Linked DNA regions of Homo sapiens: region 1 is linked to region 2. Evidence: fine-mapped expression QTL. A gene starts in region 2. The other region holds a variant in brackets. All regions are shown on one strand. Distances are from middle to middle.

Region 1 (10,636 bases), 190 kb before region 2:
TCTTAAACAGTGTTCCTCCAAGGTTATTCCAGGGGCCAGCAGTGCCAGAATAACCTGAATTGTTTATTAAAAATGCAGATCCCTGGCACCACTGCAGATGACCTAGATCAGAATCTTTAGGGTGAAGCCTAGGGATCTGCACGTTTAAAAAGCACCCCAAATGATTCCTATATACACTAAAGTTTAATGACCCCTGCCAAAATCCCATGTCCAATACATGCTTGCTCTGAAATAATGTATGCCTTTTAATTGAGGTATACTTTACATATAGTGAACCTCAAACTTGTCAGTTTTAATGAATGCATATCAAGACACAGAACATTTCCATTATTCCAGAAAGTTGCCTCATGCCCCCTCCTAGTCAATTCTACCTCCTAAGCAACCACTGATCTGATTTCTATCATCATAGGTTAGTTTTACCTCTTCTCAAACTTTATATAATTGAGTTCATATCATGGGTACTTTTTTGTGGCCAGCTTCTTTCACCCAGCATATTTTTTGGATTCATCTATATCAAAATGTATATTGGCAGTTCATTCCTTTTTGTGGCTAACTAGTATTTCATTGCATGAACATATCACAGTTTGCTTTTCCATTCTTCTGTTGTTAGACATACAAGTTGTTTATAGTTTTTGGCTATTTTGAACAAAGTCCTGATGACAATTTGTGTTCAGGTTTTTGTGGACATATGCTTTCATTTCTCTTGGGTAAATACCTACGAGGGTGATATGGTTTGGCTGTGTCCACCCCCTCAAAATCTTATCTTGAATTCCCACTTGTTATGGGAGGGACCTGGTGGAAGGTAATGGAATCATGGCGGAAGGTCTTTCCCATGTTGTTCTCGTAATAATGAATAAGTCTCACAAGATCTGATGGTTTTAAAAAGGGGAGCTTCTCTGCACAAACTCTCTTCTCTTATCTGCCACCATGTGAGACATGCCTTTTACCTTCTGCCATGATTGTGAGGCCTCCTCACCCACGTGGAACTATAAGTTCAATAAACCTCTTTCTTTTGCAGATTGTCCAGTCTTGGGTATGTCTTTATCAGCAGTGTGAAAATGGACTAATACAGTAAATTGGTACCAGTAGAGTGGGGCATTGCTGAAAAAGATACCCCAAAATGTGGAAGCGACTTTGGAACTGCGTAACAGGTAGAGGTTGGAACAGTTTGGAGGGATCAGAAGAAGACAGGAAAATGTGGGAAAGTTTGGAACTTCCTAGAACTTGTTGAATGGCTTTGCCCAAAATGCTGATAGCAATATGGACAATAAAGTCCAAGCTGAGGTGGTCTCAGATGGAGATGAGGAACTTGTTGTGAATGGCTTTGCCCAAAATGCTGATAGCGATATGAACAATAAAGTACAGGCTGAGGTGGTCTCAGATGGACATGAGGAACTTGGGAACTGGAGCAAAGGTGACTCCTGTTATGTTTTAGTAAAGAGACTGGTGGCATTTTTCCCTTGCCCTAGAGATTTGTGGAACTTTGAACTTGAGAGAAATGATTTAGGCTATCTGGCGGAAGAGGTTTCCAGGCAGAAAAGCATTCAAGAGGCGACCTGGGTGCTGTTTAAGGCATTCAGTTTTATGAGAGAAGCAGAGCACAAAGAGCATAAAGCAGAGTGGAAAATTTGCAGCCTGACAATGTGACAGAAAAGCAAAGCCCATTTTCTGAGGAGAAATTCAAGCTGGCTGTAGAAATTTGCATAAGTAACAGGGAGCCGAATGTTCATCCCCAAGACAATGGGGAAAATGTCTCCAAGGCATGTCAGAGGTTTTCATGTCAGCTCCTCCCATCACAGGCTCAGAGGCCTAGGAGGAAAAAGTGGTTTCATGGGCTGGGCCCAGGGTCCCTGTGCTATGTGCAGCCTAGGGACTTGGTGACCTGTGTCCCAGCTGCTCCAGCCATGGCTAAAAGGGGCCAATGTAGAGGTTAGGCCATGACTTCAGAGAGTGCAAGTCCCAAGCCTTGGTAGCTCTCACACGGTGTTGAGCCTGCGAGTGCACAGAAGTCAAAAATTGGGGATTGGGAACCTCCACCTAGATTTCAGAAGATGTACAGAAATGCCTGGATGTCCAGGCAGAAATTTGTTGCAGGGGCAGGGCTCCCATGGAGAACTTCTGCTAGGACAGTGTGGAAGGAAAATATGGGGTCAGAGCCCCCCTACTGGGGCACCACCTAGTGGAGCTGTGAGAGGAGGGCCACCATCCTCCAGACCTCAGAATGGTAGATCTACTGACAGCTTGCACCATGCACCTAGAAAAGCCACAGACACTCAGTGCCAGCCCATGAAAGCAGCCAGAAGGGAGGCTGTACCCTGCAAAGCCACAGGGGTGGAGCTGTCAAAGACCATGGGAATCCACCTCTTGCATCAGCATGACCTGGATGTGAGACATGGAGTTAAAGGAGATGATTTTGGATCTTTAAGATTTGAATGCCCTGCTAGATTTTGGACTTGCATGGGCCCTGTAACCCCTTTGTTTTGGCCAATTTCTCCCATTTGGAATGGCTGTATTTACCCAATGCCTGTGCCCCCATTGTATCTAGGAAGTAACTAGCTTGCTTTAGATTTTATAGGCTCATAGGCAGAAGGGACTTGCCTTGTCCAAAGACTTTGGACTGTGGACTTTTGAGTTAATGCTGAAATGAGTTAAGACTTTGGGGGACTGTTGGGAAGGCATGATTGGTTTTGAAATGTGAGGACATGAGATTTGGGAGGGGCCAGGGTCAGAATGATATAGTTTGGCTGTGTCCCCATCCAAATCTCATCTTGAATTCCCACATGTTGTGGGAGGGATCCAGTGGGAGGTAACTGAATCATGGGGGCTGGTGTTTCACGTATTGTCTCATGATAGTGAATAAGTCTCATGAGATCTGATAGTTTTAAAAGGGGGAACTTCCCTGCACAAGCTCTCTTCTCTTGTCTGTCTCCATGTGAGATGTGCCTTTCACCTTCTGCCATGATCGTGAGACCTCCCCAGTCACATGGAACTGTAAGTCCAGTAAATCTCTTTCTTTGGTAAATTGCCCAATCTCAGGTATGTCTTTATCAGCAGCATGAAAATGAACTAATACAGAGGGGAAGTACTAGGTCATATGGGAAATGTGATGGGGTGAGGTAGGCAGAATTCTAAATGGTCCTTATGATCTCTGCCTCCTGGCTCTACACCCTCTCCTCTTGAGTGTGGGCAGGATCTATGACCTATTTCTAACCAACAGAGTACGGCACCAGTGATGGATGTCACCTCTATGATTATGTTACTTTGCATAAGACTCCATCTTAGCCAACTGGAATGAGAGACTCTCCCTTGAGCTACAGGGGCCTCTAGAAACTGAGAGCAGCCCCTTGCTCACAGCCATCAAGAAAGTGGGACCTCAGCCACAACTGAATTCTGCCAACGACCATGTCAGCATAGAAGAGGACCCCAAGCTCTGGAAAGGAACAAAAACCGATGGCAATTTTGATTCTATTCTTGTGAGGCCCTGAGTGGAGGTCTCAGCCAACCTGTGCCTGGACTCCTGCCTACAGAAACTGTGAGATAATTAATGTTCACTGTTGTCCATCACTATATTTGTAGTAATTTGTTATGCAGCATAGAATACTGATACATGAGGAAAGGAAAATCACATCAATAAATGGGCCACAGACCTAAATGGAAAAGCTAGAAAGTTACTAGAAAGAAACACTGAAGAATGTCTTCATGACCTTAGAGAAGAAAAAAATTTTCTCCAGAGGATTCAGAAAATATTAGCCATAAAAGAAAAAATTGCTAAATTGCAATTTCAGCAAAATTTTAAAAATTTTTCTAACTAAAAGACACAATTTAGAAAATACTTAAGTTACAGGTTGGGAGAAAATATTTGCAACACATAACATTGACAAATGACTTGTATGTGCATGCATAAAGATTCCTATAACTAAAGAATGAAACAAGTCAATTAAAAAGAACATAAAAGAAGAGGGACCAATGGCCAGTAAGCCCATGATGCCCATGACAAAATGCTCAACCTCATTAGGCATTAGGCAAAATGCAAATTAAAACCACAATGAGATATCAGTACATATCAACAGGAATGACGGAAATGAAAAAGACAATACCAAATGCTAAAATAAAAAGAGATCAACAACAATAAATGTTGGAGAGGATGTGGAACAGCTAGGATAAGATCTTATACATAGCTAGAGGAAGTGTAAAATGTGCAGTCACTTCACAAAACTGAAGTTTCTTCAGAGTTTAAATATCTACCTTAGTTTGATTTTATAGCTTACAACAATAAAACCACATGCCTTCATCAGTAACTAGCATTTGAAATGTGTTTTTTAAAATCAATGTTATAAG[T/C]GTACATGATAGAAGAGTCAGTTAGACTTAATTCAGTAAGACTTAAATGATAGAAGAGTCAGACTTAATTCAGTAAGACTTAAAAAAGAGGAACTATCAACTCCCTATTTCCTTTTCTCAAGAGGGAAATCCTTTCAATTCCATTAGTTTTCTTTTCTTTTTTAACTTTAACTTTTTTGGTTTTTCAGTCTAATTGACTTTTTACTAGTGAAGATAAGGATTTATTTCTGTTTAACCACCACTACTACATGACCAATATCTCTTCCCTTACCCTATTCTTCCAGTGTAGCTATATCTCAATTGTTGGATATTTAATATTTCTAATGTTACTACTAAACTCTATTAAGGACTGAGCCTAATAATAATAATACTAGCCACCCTATTATTTTTTCTTTCTTGCCCTACTTTTAGTTTTCTTTGAAGTTTCTTCTTTAATTATTTGCTTAGTTTTAATCTTAGCCTCTAAAAAGTAGAGTCTGAAGCAAAAATTAAAGTGCTGTTACTCTATTTGGGAGATGCAAATCCAGATCACTGAGGTTGAGGAAAAAGGAAGGGAGGCAAATAAAGACGTGAAGCAATGCAAAATGACATGTTACTGCACTTGGCTGCTGCTGCATAAAGAACCACTTAGTGACACAGCGGGTTGTTCAGCAGGTCTGTTCATTTGGCACCCGAGACTTCTCCAGATGGGTTGCAAGAATAAATCATGCTTCAATGTCCACCATAGAAGAAAAGAAGAAAAGTGATTTGTCCTCCAGGCTCCTTCTTGTCTCTGGATTCTTGTTTGGTAAAATTCATCTCATGTGAATGTATTCCCTTGTACTTCTAGATTGCATTAACCCAGTCCCTTCATGGGCTGCCCACTTGAGATCCTAGATCTCACACCCTGTGCTGTAGTGTTTTATCCAACCCTGGAAGAGACGGAAGGAGAAAAACTCTGAAGGAATGGCTAGTTGGCCTAGCTTCAAGAATAGCTACAAGAGATGTAGGGAGCTTGCATCTCATATAGTTTTCTATACACTTATCACTGATACAACCCCAGCTTTCACCTATCCACTGAAAACTCCTCTCAATCACTCAAATAAATGAGGGTATTCCATCATTTTCCACTTCCTGGAGCTCTATCTCTGGATCCATTTGACCATACTCCACTCTGGACTGGTTGACATCTATACTTCGTACACAGCTGTTATCCTGAAATCTCCTTTCACCGTCATTTTGAGTTTTTCTCCTTCTGTCTCTTAAGTTGAAACTGTTTCCTGAATTACATATCTTCTTCTTTTCAACCTATCCATCTGACAAATGGCTAATATCTAGAATCACAAGGAACTTAAACAAATTTACAAGAAAAAAACAAACAACCCCATCAAAAAGTGGGCAAAGGATATGAACAGACACTTCTCAAAAGAAGACATTTATGCGGCCAACAAACATATGAAAAAAAGCTCATCATAATTGGTCATTAGAGAAATGCAAATCAAAACCAAAAGGTCATACCATCTCATACCAGTTAGAATGGTGATTATTAAAAAGTCAGGAAACAACAGATGCTGAAGAGGATGTGGAAAAATAGGAACGCTTTTACACCGTTGGTGGGAGTGTAAATTAGTTCAACCATTGTGGAAGACAGTGTGTGATTCCTCAAGGATCTAGAACCAGAAATACCATTTGACCCAGCAATCCCACTACTGGGTATATACCCAAAGGATTATAAATCATTCTATAAAGACACATGCACACATATGTTTATTGCAGAACTATTCACAATAGCAAAGATTTGGAACCAACCCAAATGCCCATCAGTGATAGACTGGATTAAGAAAATGTGGCACATATACATCATGGAATATTATGCAGCCATAAGAAAGGATGAGTTCATGTCCTTTGCAGGGACATGGATGAAGCTGAAAACCATCATTCTCAGCAAACTAACACAGGAACAGAAAACCAAACACCACATGTTCTCACTCATAAGTGGTAGTTGAACAATAAGAACACATGGACACAGGGAGGGGAACATCACACATCGGGGCCAGTTATGGGGGTGAGAGGCTGGTGGGGGGATAGCATTAGGAGAAATACCTAATGTAGATGATGGGTTGATGGGTGCAGCAAACCACCATGGCACATGTATACCTATGTAACAAACCTGCATGTTCTGGACATGTATCCCAGAACTTAAAGTATAATAATAATAATAAAAAAATAATCCTTAGAGGAAAATTACCAAATTATCATTATTTCCCTATAAAATTAAAGAGGCAAAACACAACTAAGATAAGGTTTCTGCCCACAACACATTTACAGTTTTAAAAGAGATTAATAGGTTGGTAGGTTTAAGTTATACAAACATTAAGCAGTGACCAGGTACAGTGGCTCATACCTGTACTCCCAACACTTTGGGAGGCCAAGGTAGCCAGATTGCCTGAGCCCAGGATATCGAGACCAGCCTGGGCAACATGGTGAAGCCCCGTCTCTACAAAAATACAAAAAATTAGCCAGACATGCTGGCATGCTCCTTTAGTCCCAGCTATTCAGGAGGCTGAGGTGGGAGGATCACTTGAACCAGGGAGGTTGAGACTGCAATACGGCATGATTTTGCCACTGCACTCAGCCTAGCAACAGAGTGAGACCCTGTCTAAAAATAAATAATAAAAATATTAAGCAAAGCAAGGCATAATTTAGTACTAACTTGATTGATGCAGAACCTATAGGAGATGTGAAGCCACTTTCTTGGTTTATACTTTTGTTTTGGTAAAAGACCTCCTAAGAAATGGTGCATAGTATGAATAGGGTGCATATAGTTCAATTCTGGCCTTGGTATTAAGCCTCAGCCTTAAAAAGGCCAAAAAGCCAAATGCATACTTAAACATAATTTCTGGCATCTATAAATTTTTACTAATCAATAATCTTGTGACCTTCAGGGTTACCACCATATCTAATTAGTGCTGAATCATCAGTAATGTGAATAAGCCACACCATTCAAATTATTGCTAATATTAGAATATTCACCTTCAAATATCAGTAGTCACTTTAGATGACTTTTGGAGTGAGAATCTACTTGTGTGCTTTATACATTGTAAATCTATCAGTTACTTGAACATGTACTCCCAAACACAAAATGCATTTGTATTATTCAAAAATTGAACATCTGGTAAAATTTGGCTGTGAATTCATCTGGCCCTGGGCTTTTCTTGGTCAGGAAATTTTTTATTACTAGTCAATTTCATTACTCGCTATTGGTCTGTTCAGGATTTCTATTTCTTCCTAGTTCAGTCTTGGAAGGTAGTACATTTCCAGGAATGTATCCATTTCCCCTAGGGTTTCTAGTTTGTGAGCATAGAGATGTACAAAGTAGTCTCAATTGATCTTTTGTATTTCTGTGGTATCAATTGTAATGTCACCTTTATGATTTCTGATTGTGTTTATTTGAATCTTCTCTCTCTTTTTCTTGGCTAGTCTAGCCAGTGGTCTATCAATTATGTTTATCTTTTCAAAGAACCAACTTTTTGTTTCATTGATCCTTCATATCATGTTTTTTTTTTTTTTTTTTTTTGTCTCAACCTCACTTAATTCTGCTCTAATCTTTGCTATTTCTTTTTCTTCTGCTAGCTGTTGGTTTGGTTTGTTTTTATTTTTCTAGTTCCTTGAGGTGTGACATTAGGTTGTTGATTTTAGGTCTTTCTATCTTTTTAATGTAGCCATTTAACACTATAAGCTTCCAGCACTGCTTTTGCTATATCCCAGAAGTTTTGGTGTGTTGTGTCTCTTTTCATTTGTTTCCATCTTTTTAATTTCTGTATTAATTTCATCATTTACTCAAAGATCATTCAGGAGCAACTTGTTTAGTTTCCATATATTCAAATACTTTAGAGAGCTCCTCTTGATATTGAGTTCTAATTTTATTTCACAGTGGTCTAAAAAGATATTTCATATGATTTTTTAAAAATTTATTGAGACTTGCCTTATGGCCAAGAATATGGTCTATTTTCCAGAATGTTCCACATTCAGATAAGAAAAATGTATATTTTGCAGTTGTTGGGTAGAATGTTCTGTAAATGTCTATTAGGTAGGTCCATTTGGCCTAGAGTCCAGTTTAAGACTTTGCTGATTTTTTGCCTTGATGATCTGTCTAGTCCTGTCAGTGGGGTGATAAAGTTCCCCACCATTATTGCATTGCTGTCTCTTTTCTTAGGTCTAGTAGTATTTGTTTTATGGATCTTGGTGCTTTGGTATTGGGTGCATATATATTTGGGATAGTTATATCTTCTTGTTAAATTGAACCATTTGTCATTATATAATAACTTTTGTCCTTTTTTACAGTTATTGATTTAAAGTCTGTTTTATCTGACATAAATATAGCTACTCCTGCTCATTTTTGTTTTCTGTTTGCATGGTATAGTTTTTCATATGTTTATTGCAGCACTATTCACAATAGCAAAGTCATGGAATCAACCTAAGTGTCCATCTACAGATGACTGGATAAAAAATGTGGTAATTGTATTTATATATATATACACACACACACACATACACACACACACACGATGGAGTGCTACACAGCCACAAAAATGAAATTATGTCTTTTGCAGCAACATAAATGGAGTTGGAGGCCATTACTATAAGTGAAATAACTCAGAAACAGATAATCAAATACTACATGCTCTCACTTATAAAGGGAGCTAACCAGTGGGTACACATGGACATAGAGAAGGAACTAACAGACACTGGGGACTTCAAAAGTGGTAACAGTAGGAGGGGGTAAGGGTTGAAAAATTACCTGTTGGGTACAGTGTTTACTATCGGGGTGATGGACACGCTGGAAACCCAAACTTCACCATTACACAACATATCCATGAAGCGAACCTGCATCGGTACCCCCTCAAACTATTAAAAAAATTGAAATGCTATAAAAAGTAATGAGCAATTTTACATATGAAAACAATTATTAAAAACAGCCAAATAGCTGAATATATAGGAAACAGAGTGTTGATTTGAAGGTTAAAAAAGAGTGGATTCGTGACATAAACATAGGAAGAACTTCATATCCTTTTTGAATAAAATGTTAATTAAAAACTAAATGATACAAGAAAGAATAACAAAGATTAGATTATATCATAATTCACATCATTATAGAATTGTTTGAGGTACTAGCACTCAAAACACTAACAAAATAAACTTTAATAACTATATTTAACTTTTTGTTATTTCCCTTTAGGCCGAAGGTATTTCAAAAAAATTTGTCACAGCTTGTGAGGATATGCTTTGCCCTCTCAACATTTCATGAAAAGAAAAAACTCCAAAACCATGTACAACATCATCCATGATTAATCATCTTCAATGTAGACATAACAAAGATACAAATAATACATTTCACAATTTTAGAAAAAACTGAGGTAAACAAAACACATATTTTTCTTGCTGATAAAATATCAAAGTAACAGACATCACAAGAGTTCTTTAAGTTTTTTTAGTTTTGAGTCTTTGGAGGATAAAAATGTAAATAATATACTTGTTCAAAGAGTTGCAATAGACTATGATAAATTTTCAGTAATTAAAGATGATGGATTTTTAGCTGGGTGAGGTGGCTCATGCCTGTAATCCCAGCACTTTGGGAGGCCGAGGAGGGTGGATCACCTGAGTTCAGGGGTTCAAGATCAGCCTGACCAATATGGTGAAACCCTGTCTCTAATAAAAAATACAAAAATTAGCCGGGCGTCATGGCGGGTGCCTGTAATCCCAGCTACTCAGGAGGCGGAGGCAGGAGGATTGCTTGCACCCAGGAGATGGGGGTTGCAGTGAGCTGAGATCGTGCCACTGCACTCCAGCATGGGCGACAGAGTGAGACTGTCTCAAAAAAAAAAAAAAAAAAAAGATGATGGATTTTTGAGATTTGTTCAAGCTATGAATTCCAGATTAAATTAAATAAAAAGATATTTAAAAACACTCCTGATTATATTCTTTTATGCAATGGAGATATGATTTGTCATGCTTTGGATGTTAATATAGTTATATCTGCTTTCTTTTGATTAGTATTTCCATGGCGTACCTTATTCCTTCTTACTACTTTTTACATTTCTAATCATTATATTTCAACTGAATTTATTGTGAGCAGCATATAGCTCAGTTTTTATTGTCTGAAGTGGGGGCAGTTGAGATTTTAATAACATAAATCAATGTTGGGCCCTGCCTGTCAGTGCCAGGCCCATGGGCCTCCTATCTTTCTATTGCTTGGATGGCTGCCTGCAGCCAGGCTTCCCACATTCCCTAGGAAAGATCCAGCAGCAGCCTGAGAAGG
Region 2 (10,636 bases):
TATCTTGGACTCACTTTTCTTTCTATTTTGGCCCCATATTTAACCAACCACCATTTTCTGTGAAACTTAATAGTTTAACACCTCTTGACTCAACCACTTTTCTCCACTAATTTATCTCATTCTCCACTATCACCACTGCGATCTAAGCCAATATATCCTCTGTGACCCAGCCCCTCTTAACTTGTTATCCTCCTGCTTCTTACCATCCAGTAAGTAATCATTGCAACCAAAGTGATTATTTAATTTTTTTAATTTAAAATGATCATGTCATTCCCTTGCTTTTATTACAATCCTTCAATAACTTCTCTTAGTATTTATGATAAAAACCAAAATATTTAACTACAAACTCTCTAGAATCCTGACTAGAATTTGCAAACTCAACAACAACCAGGTTAAATATTGATTGATTTGTATTTACTTATTTCGCACTCTGAGTGGCACATGCCCGCCCCCGTCCCCCTCCCAAGGGAGCAGCTGCTACTGGGTTGTGGCTTGAATATTACCATCTGAAAATACACTGGATGTTGCCATAACCTCTAATTTTTCAAGAAAGATCAGAAATCCAGACTTTAACATGAAATCTCCTGATCTGTGAATGCTGACAACTAATTCAAACTTTTGTAACAACAATAAGGAGGCCAAAAAACTTGTAAGCAGGCCAAACCTGACCTCTCATCTAGTCTCATCACCCAGACCCACACCCTCTGCAACAGCCATACTTAACATTTCTCAGATTCTTAGTGATGCCAAGCTTTTTTTCCTTAGGGCTCTCACACATGTTGTGTCTTCTGCTTTGACCCTCAACCTCCCCTCAACCTCCAATTCCACTTCATTAAGCAATCTCCTACTCATTCTACGTTTCTGAGGCACACTTTCTCAATGAAGTCTTCCTTATTCCCACTGCCCCTCCACCCCCAACTCTATAGACTAGGTCACACATTCCTTGCTCTGAAAGCACTGAGTACAACTTCGTAACATTCATCACACCTCAAAAACAAAATTATTTATTTAATGCCCATCATCTCTCCCTAGATTGAAAGTTTCATGAAAGCGGGGCCTGCCACAGTAGGCATACATTTGTTGCCAACCAGTTTGGTTATAAAATGTTCCTTTAGACAATAAGATCCTAGTATACTTCTAAATATTAATCAAACTGTACCCTACTTTTCAGAAAATATACAGTATTTAAAGGAAAGTAGATTCCGAATAAAAATATTCCATTACAATTATAATCACTGATGATAATAATAGTTAACATTTATTGATCATTTACTAAATGCCAGGAACTATGTTGAGTGCTTTGCATGTACTATCTCTTTCAATAAAACAATCTGTAAAGTAGATACATGCCACTGTGATACAAAGGAAACAATATAGAGTTTTAAAATTTCTCAGTATCATAAATCTAATCAGTGGCAAGCTAGGGTATGAATCTATACAGTCTGACTCCAGAACTTAAACACCAAATTATTATACTAATCTATTAATAAAGAAATACTAACTAAACAAGTATCTCTTAAGTACTGCAAATAAGAAATGGTGACCATGACTTATTTTCCATTACTTATTAGTTAAAGTAACATTCCTCAGCCCTCTATCCTGTACCCTTACACACACACACACACACACACACACACACTAAATGAAGATAAACTGTCAATTTGTTTCTTCTAAATTAGGTAAGTTCTGACCCATACCCAAAATACATATGATCTTAGTACCAACTGTAAAAGTGCTATTTTTCTGAATTATTTTTAAATAAGTTAATGTTTATACATTTGATGTTTTCTGTTTCCACATTTTAAACATACACTTAATTTAAAAAGTATTTCCTTGCTCAAAGTAAAAGAAAGTTTATTACTACAGACTCTTTTCTGATATAGTAAACAACAGCAAATAATACGCTAAAGCAAATGTCAACTGATATAACCACAGAAATACAAAGAGATAACACAAGGATCCTTTGCCACCTGAACTCTATTTGAATTCTCGTTTTCCAAAACTCAGGAACCGAATAGATTCCAAAAACTGCATTGGAATCTATCCAGACTCACATGTATCACTTGCTATCCAGACTCTTACTAGCCAAAACTCAGGGCATGGCTCACAAACCACCCCTGCTATCAGAACAATAACCAATCTCTCATTCCAAACTCAGGAACCCAATAGTTTTAGATAGCTAAATACATATGCATATATATCCAAGGGCTTCATAAATTTAAGAATTCTTGTTTAAACTATTTATACAGACTGTTAAAAATGTGAATAAAAGGCACATATCTGTATTTTCATTCAAATTTCATATTTTAACTCCATTTACTGAGAATTTTTGTGTAAATGTTTTTAAACTAAAATGTGGTCATATTATTTTAAACTTTTAGACCATTCAAAATGTATTTTTTAAACTGCTTAGTACATGACAGATACTATTAATAATAGAGCTAAGTAATGTTAATGTGTGGCTGTTGTGAAACAGCTCTAAAAACAGCCTTAACACATTTTTTCAATATATTTCATATGTTATACAAATACCATGCGAAATAAGATTTTCAAGGAAAACTACTTTCACCGTTAATTTTTCAGTAACATATTTCACAGATCATATTAGTGTTTTCTTAAAGTCACAACAAGCAAAGTGCAAAATTAAAGAAACAAATACAGGAGTACAGTAGTCGAAAATGGCAAAAATTCCAAATTAACTTAGTTACAAAAGAATGGCATGAAACAATATTAGAAGTAACTACTCCATAAAATTCATCCAAAAGTCAAAGAACCATCACACAAGTAATGAATTAACTAGGTTGAGAAAAAAAGAAAAACCAGTTCTCATAAAACAGTGCATTTTCCCAAATATTTAATGTAGGCTTACACGTGAACCTAAGCTTTTTCGGTGCTTGACAAAAAGTTAAAACTATCATCAGATGGGAAATGAATTCAAGCACATGATTTTTTTTCCCACATACTCAAGAATTATTTTAAGAAACAAGGAAAAGATGGCAGGTTTAAGAAAAGTCAACTACTTTCCCAAACTCTTGAGTACAAATATAAAAATTATAAAAATTGTAACTAGAGCTCCCATTTTATCCTAGTTTGGCTATGCTCTCCCCAGAGCTCACTTTAGATTTAGTGATCTGAAAGAATGTGAACCCCTTAATCAACCAAATTCCAATAGTTGCTTGACACAGTCCATCTATTACATTAAAAGAGAGAGCAAAATTAAGTTTCACAAAAATAAATCTTGTCTACAAGCCTCACAAAGTGCAATAACTTAGGATTCAATACCTTTTAACTTAACTGATTTCATATACAGCACCAACACACATCCCCAAAAAAAGAACAAAAATCAGGATATTTTCACGTTAAGAAATGACAGGTATATTCTGCCCACGTTTGTCATCCTAAAAAGCTGACTCACTACTAAGCTTCAACTACAAGCCAGAAAACGAGAGCCCTCTGGGAGAGCACACCCAAAAGAGCTGTCAAGGTTCGATGCTTTGATTTCACATGGTGGCACAATGACTGACTCCAACACGTTATTAATAAATGCAGGCACAGCTTATGTCACCATTTCTTTAGGTTAAGTTTTCATACCTCCCTTCCCAGATGTCCACATTAGACACAACTCTGAACGCAAATGTTTTTCTTATATAAAACCGAAGAGAAGAACGACTTAGGTAGGACTCCAGTCCTACCAGTCTATGGACTCTACCATAGACTGGAGGTAGAGTCCCTCCAGTCTATGGTTTTATTCAGCCAGTCTTGAAGTAACAATACAATATTTATGACTCGAAAAATTACATTTTACTGCAAGAAAAAAAAAAGACAGATTCGATCCAATCACCGTACCTTGCTCTGCCAAATGTTAGTACCAGAACTTCTGAAATAAACAAACCTGTGTCTATGTTCATCGGGTCCATGGATCAGGAAGACTCCGGGGTTTTTAGCCCCTTTACCGGCATCTACATGTGGAATTAACACATCTTCTAAACCCAAATCAAAGCGTTTGTGTTTTGAAGAGTCTGGAAGGAAAAAGAATGCCCCAAAACACAGAGTGATGAAGGCACTAAGAATAAGGAGAAGAATAAACTTCTCAGAAAGTCTCAAGGTAGCCCTGTGATGTGGGAAGGAAGGCGGCCCCAGGTTCAGAGGTGGTATCCTACGTCCAGAGAGGGGCAGCAGGGCTGGGGTAGTCATCGTTTACGCTCTTGGAGAGAATACTTTAGAAAGTTCTCATCTTATGTCAAATGTAGAATACATTGAACTGTCTTCAAAATCTTGGCCAAAATGGGAAAACTCAATTTTGCTCCTCTTAAAGGACTGTTGTGCTTTTTAAGAGGGCACGTCATTCACGCCCATCCATTCCCACTCAGAAACGTGTGTGACCTCCCCCAAACGATCACAAGTTTAGGTCCTGCGATATCCTCTTCAACATCTGTACTTCATCGGATTATTACAAGCCTCCTCTTCATTCCTAGGGGTAGATCAGGCAAGCCACACTGCAGAAAAGCTGCAAGGTGGGTTCTTCCATTCCTGCACCTCAGTGAGATGCTCAAACGTAGTCTTCCGCCCCGAAAGGGAGACTGGCGACATCCGAGGAGTTGTAGAAGGTTCACTTGATCTCCTTCGACGCTTCTATTCCAGAATCTCTTAACCTTAGCGGTGGAAAAAATAAGGGTCTCCCACGGACGTCTGCAAACAGGGAGGAAGGTCTCCCACTTCGCTGGGAAGCCGAAGCAGCGGCGCTGGGCGAAGTAGCAGGAAGGAGTTCTCGGCCGCCCGCGCTTCCCGGCGCTGCCTGGCAGGAACCTGGCGCCCGGCTGAGTCCCGCTGCTGCCCACTCGACGGCTGGCGCGAAGGGCAATAGCGTCCGAAACACCTGAGTCCGGCCAGCCGCCGCGGCCGCCGCCGCTGTTGCTACCGCACGGGTCTGTCAGGGAGCGGAACTTCCTCCTCCGGCGGCCACTGAGAAGCCCCGGCGTGTCCTGGGGGAGGGGAGGCGCGGCGGCCGCCCCCGCCGAGCTCCTCCTCCTCCTCCTCCTCCTCTTCCTCCTCCTCCTCCTCCTCTCCGCGGCCGGTTCAGTGAACCCCGGCGCCTGCTCCCCGAGCTAGGCCGCCGGCCGCAGTGGCCGAGCCCTCGCGCCTAAGAAGCCGAGCCGGGGCCCACGCTCCGAGAGCCCGGGGTAGGCGCCGGCTCATTCCTCACTCAGCCCTGGAGCGGCGGGAGGGCCTGGGCGCGCGGGAGCAGCCGCGCCTCGGGCGGGCAGAGGTCGGCCGCGTCTCCTTCCTGCCCGGCCGCGGGGGCCTCCTCCGCGCCGCCTCCGGTGGCTCGCAGCTGCTGGCTCTGGCGGCGGCTGCCAGAGAGGCAGCGCGCCCACGCCGCTCGGGGCTGCGGCCCGGTCCCCGTACCCTGCCTCCCCAGGCCTGGTGAGCGCAGCAGCTGCTGGGCCGACACCCGTTGGGCTCACGCCGGAGAGGAACCGGAGGGCGGGGGCGATGGGACCCGGGCCGGCCTACCGGCCCCGGCTCGCGAGTGGGCGTCCCCGGGCGGCGGAGTGTGAGGTGCGCGCGCACGCTCCCGGCTCCGCTGCCGCCGCCCCTCCCCCACCCAGCCTGGCTGCCCGGGCTCCGGCCTCGCGCCGCTGCCGGCTCCAGCAGCCCGAAAGCGTACTGCTGCCGCCGCCGTCTGAGCGCGAAAGAAGAGAAGGTCGCCGATCTGCGCTGCCACGAGAACTTCACCGGTGCCCAGGGCCTTGCCACCGCCAGTTCGTGGGGTTGACCCAGCGTTTGGGCGAGAGGGAGCGAGGGGTTGGGTCGCGAAGGTTTCGCTGAAATGTAGTGTCACCGGAGTTAATGGCTTCTGATGGCTTAGGTTAACGTTTACTGTGATTCTTTGGAAGTCTTGTCTTCAGCGATAGACCGTCAGGCCCGAGGATTCAGCAACAGGGTCTCAAACTTCCACGCAGCAGCCCATGCTCACGTTATTGGGCCCCCGAGGCTCGATTAATAGAGCACCAACATGTGCCATGTTACGTTTTTAAAATAAAGTGGTGACCCTGCTCCTTCAGCTGGGCTTCCTTTCAGAGGAATCTAGGTACCCCCGATATGACAGGCGTCTCTTCATTGTTCAGTTTCTGGGGCACGTTCTATCATCTTCACACACCTCATCAACCCCCTTCCCATAAAAGAGAAAATGGATGAATAAGGAGGTGCTGAAACCCAAAAAGGCGACAATATTGTTTACGTTCAGGCTTAAAAACAATCTGAATCAATTCTGTTCTCCGTAGTATTGAGGAGAGCCATGTTGTGATTAAGTGCAAAAGATTTCCTTGCAAGATACATAGACTCTTGCATCCGATTTACTTGCAGGTTGTTTTTGTTCTAATATTGTCATTCCCTGTACACATCCTTTACTGATGACTGGGAATTGGAGAGGAGGCCCTTAAATGTCAGGAGAGTAAGTCAGCCTTAGCTTAAAAATCAAGCAGAAAAGTCTCATGTTCATTGGCACACTTGTAACTACATTCCAGTCTCCCAGTCTGCATTATTTCTAGAAGCTCTGCATATCTAACTGCCTACCACATGACAAAAGTCATTGTCATTGATCCTGCTTCACCAAATAAAAAGTAAAAATATTGAGGGCCACCTCTCACCAGTTCACCCAGGGAGACTGGTAAGCAAGGAGTGCCCGGTCCCTAGTGAGATTTATGTTGAACATTTGTGAAGAGTAGATATAAGAAACTTTTAGCCTTCCCAATATGTCTTTATAAAATGTGCCAAATTTAAGAATAAGTCTCTAATGTTGAGACTCCGTAAGCCAAAGTGGGGGGGGCGGTGGGGAGGCGGGGAAGAACACACTGTTTTCCTACTGTTGAGATCATTAGTTTCCATGAAAAGTTCAGGGGAAATAAATACTGAACTCTGAATGAAATAGCAAGTTATATAAATCTTGAAAAATAAATATTACCTAGGTTAACACTAGACTTAACCACAAGAGATTTCAATCATGAAACCTGACATAACCTAGTTGACAAGTATAGCTTAAGCAAGTAAGACCTCATTGCTGATGGAGAAGACCCCTTTTCCTTTGCTTGTCTGTTTTGCAAAATTCATTTTTCCTTCATGAGAGTAAAAACAATTTAGGGGTTATTGCAGATGTCCAAATGCAGCCAGCAATTTTAAAGTCATTGATGATACCGTCAGTTATCACACTCCTACACCAGCAATGAAAATACTGTATACATAGTATTACATATATCCACTCTTCTAAAGGCAAGTCTGAGTTTTTAAAGAATCATGTTGTTTAAAAAAAAAAAAGTTGCAAATGTATCCATTAATTATAATTATATGCACTTAAAAACATAGAAAAAGAATATTTGAAAAAGATTGCAACTATTCTGTTAAGATACTGGTTTTACGTATGATTTTCTCCATTGTATTCTGTTGCATTATATTTACAATTAAATAAAAATTATAAAGGAACTGGTGCCTGAAAAAGTTAAGGTCAAATTTCAAATAGGTAGACTCGGTAGTATCAAGATGAACACACAGACCGGCCCATCTGAAGGCAATCGGCAGAAACAGTATGCAGCCTGTTCTATGTATGTGTGTATGTGTGTGTACACGTACAACAGGGAAGGATTTCATTCCAGAGAGTCTAAAAAGAATATTTCATTTTCAAAGAGTAGTTACCCTTTGATCAGAGATTCCAAAGTGATGATTTCCCTTTTACAAATCCATATAAATTAATATTTTAGAAATTAGAATTAATAAATTACTAACAAAATTTACTCCTGCAGATTTACAGGACCACTCCTAAGATCCACTCGTATTGCAATGTGGAAGTTACTTGTATTTGTTCAACCATGTGTTGACTTTTCTATTATTGAAACCATTTCACACCTGTTATACACACACGCATGCACACACACACACACACACACACACATACACCCCTAGCTCTGTTTTAAGTGAAACTGAAGTGCTACAGGAAAAAAATAAAAGCTGGTATGCAAAAAGAGGCTTTTGATTTACTTATGTAACCTGTTCCAACTGGTGCCCAAAATGTACAAGGAAGATATTGGAGGAGAAATTACTCGACGTGACCACTGAATGTGTAGGGAAATAACAGGCTTCAGCCTTGCTCCTTCCAATCTTGCTTTCCTCTATGAGGCATTTTCCTCAGAGGTCAGGGATAAACTGAAGTTCAGTGCTGTGAAGCCCTCAAGTAAGATCCGTGAAAGTCGGCAAAGCCAAAAAATCTTGGCTGCTTCTCTGAGCCAAAGTACGTGAGGCTCATTTGCTTATAAAAGACTCATTTGTTGGAGGACTACTATTTGACAAATCCTGTACTAGGTGCTGGAGATTTGGAGAAATAAGTCAGAATCCTTATGCTCAGTGAGCTTGCAGTCTAGTGTGGAGGAGTAGATGAACACTGACGATTACAAGACAGTGGGAAGAATGCTGTTGGAGCAAAGTGTCACGGGCTTTATGGGAACACTGAAGGTGCCACAGAGTGAGAGGAGGTGGATTGGGAAAGTTAGGGAAAGTTCCCCAATCCAGTGTCACCTGAGCTGAGCCTTGAACCATAAGAGAAGGGTCGTGCTCCAGCCTAGGGAGCAGAGCATGCGCAGGCACCCATAGCTGGTTTTTCCTGCCATTTACGCAGAACACTTCCTGCTCTACTCGTCCAGTAAATAGCTTGCCTGGCCCTAATCTCACAACACTCTTGAGCTGGGAAAGTGAAAATGGTGGGGCAGTGCTATTGCATTGCAAATAAAATGGGTTCAGAATGACTAATGGGTATTGCCAACATGTTTCTGTAATGAAAAGACATAGATGGTATTCGTGCTTTCACAGGCAGTACCCTCTTGTTTCAGGCAATGTTTCACCTCTTTAAATCCATTAATAAAGTGAAGCCCTTTAAATGTATATGAGGTACTGAACTAGGAGTCAAAAGACATGGATTTCAAACCTAGCTCTACTCCTTACTGAGTTTCCTTATTTATAAAACATAATAGTCCTTACCTATTTTATAGGACTGTTTAAGGATCAAATGAGCTATTGTTTCTAAAATGCTCTAAAGACTTGTTTGTTCTATTCAGAATAATAGGTTGCTGATGGTTGTGTTTGTGTGACTTGGAAACATGAAATTCCAGTTTGTCTAGCATTCCTTTAGAAAACTATCTTTTCCCCGGTCTTAGTCTATTGGTCTAGATTGGGATGACCTCTCAACCACCCACTATAGCACTTGCTCCCACCATTAACTAGATCCAGGAATGTTACCCAGATTTGACTAACCTGTGTTCCACATTTCCCTGGCCATAATGATTGGTTTGGAAAAGGGCAAGTGACACAAACCAAGCTAATCCAAACCCTCCTTAGGTCATTTCCTGATGTCATCAGCAAAAGTGGTATCTCTTTACCTTAGAATTCCCAGCCCTGAGCGTGCTATAACCTTAGAGCTGCCAGTGGCCTTCTTGCCACCATGTGAGGAAGTTTGCTACTAATGAAGCAAACAGAGAAGAAAAGAGCTGAAACAGTGAGAGAGAAAGTATCTACATGGTATCACTTGAGCCCTTGGTAAGGGTGGATCTGGGTCTTGTGGGGCTGGAAGCATACCTAATTTGAGGAGTCCTCTTTAAGAAAAATAATACAAAATGAATTATTAAAGTGGATTTTAGGGCGGGTGTGGTGGCTCACACCTGTAATCCCAACACTTTGGGAGGCCGAGGCAGGTGGATCATGAGGTCAGGAGATTAAGACCATCATGGCCAGCCTGGTGAAAACCCGTCTCTACTAAAAATACAAAAATTAGCTGGGTGTGGTGGCGAGCGCCTGTAATCCCAGCTACTCAGGAGGCTGAGGCAGAAGAATCGCTTGAACCCGGGAGGCAAAGATTGCAGTGAGCCAAGATCGCGCCACTGCACTCCAGCCTGGTGACACAGTGAGACTCCATTTCAGGAAAAAAAAAAAAGGATTTTGCTAAACTGAATTCCATTACAAGTGAGTATGTCTTAGTAATGCTGAGACCACACCACCACCACCCGACCCACGCGACCAATGGAGCAGTGTGACGGATAGGAAATCAGAGTAGAAAAGAAACCACAATCTTAACCAATCGTGATTGAAATATTTTATTTTTACAAGATTTAGAAAAACATGATTATGTATACATGTTGCTAGGACCTCTCCCAGAGCCTAAGACAGGACCGAGCAATTAGTAACCCAGAAATTTAAACTTCATTGGGCTCATTGTAAATCTACTTCTCTGAATCCAGGTATATCTAAGGCTATTTCATCTTTTGAATTTCTCGGTTGTATAAGTCTATAAATTTCTTTTTCAGTCAGAATTAGTTTCTGTGGCTTACATTCAAGAGTCTTGACTAATACACAGTGTGTCTTTACATGGAGGTATTGTGGCTGGTAGTAGTATGTGAAGCTTCAGTAGTTTTACAAGTATAAGTGATCAGGGACTAGAAGGAACCTACTCTTTCAGGTAGGCAACAAGCTTGGGCAGGGACAAAAGCAGAATGAAACCAGCAGAGATGTCTCTGTGGTCGGCCAGGGAAAGAAAACCTAAAACTGGGAGGGCTGGACAGATGTGACTGCAGAGGTATATCAAAGCTAGCAACCCCTA

Direction of the effects. Alleles are on the strand shown, and positions count from the first base shown. SD is a standard deviation of normalised expression in the study named.
In carriers of allele T in region 1, the expression in gastroesophageal junction of the gene that starts at base 4,929 in region 2 tends to be lower than with C alone (small effect, 0.17 SD a copy in GTEx).

The links.
Region 1: its variant is fine-mapped to the expression of MAN1A2 in gastroesophageal junction (GTEx, PIP 0.90).

Annotation. Positions count from the first base shown.
Region 1 is chr1:117,550,324-117,560,959 of GRCh38, reverse strand. No RefSeq gene overlaps it. Among named protein-coding and RNA genes, the nearest start is that of TENT5C-DT, 50 kb to the left of the region's middle. The variant T/C (reference allele first, on the strand shown) is at 4,339.
Region 2 is chr1:117,361,742-117,372,377 of GRCh38, reverse strand. MAN1A2 (mannosidase alpha class 1A member 2) reads right to left here and starts at 4,929. Exons shown (of 13, transcript NM_006699.5): 1 at 3,893-4,929. The coding sequence starts at 4,194. RefSeq lists an enhancer at 3,864-4,003 and silencers at 4,874-5,693, 8,614-8,673.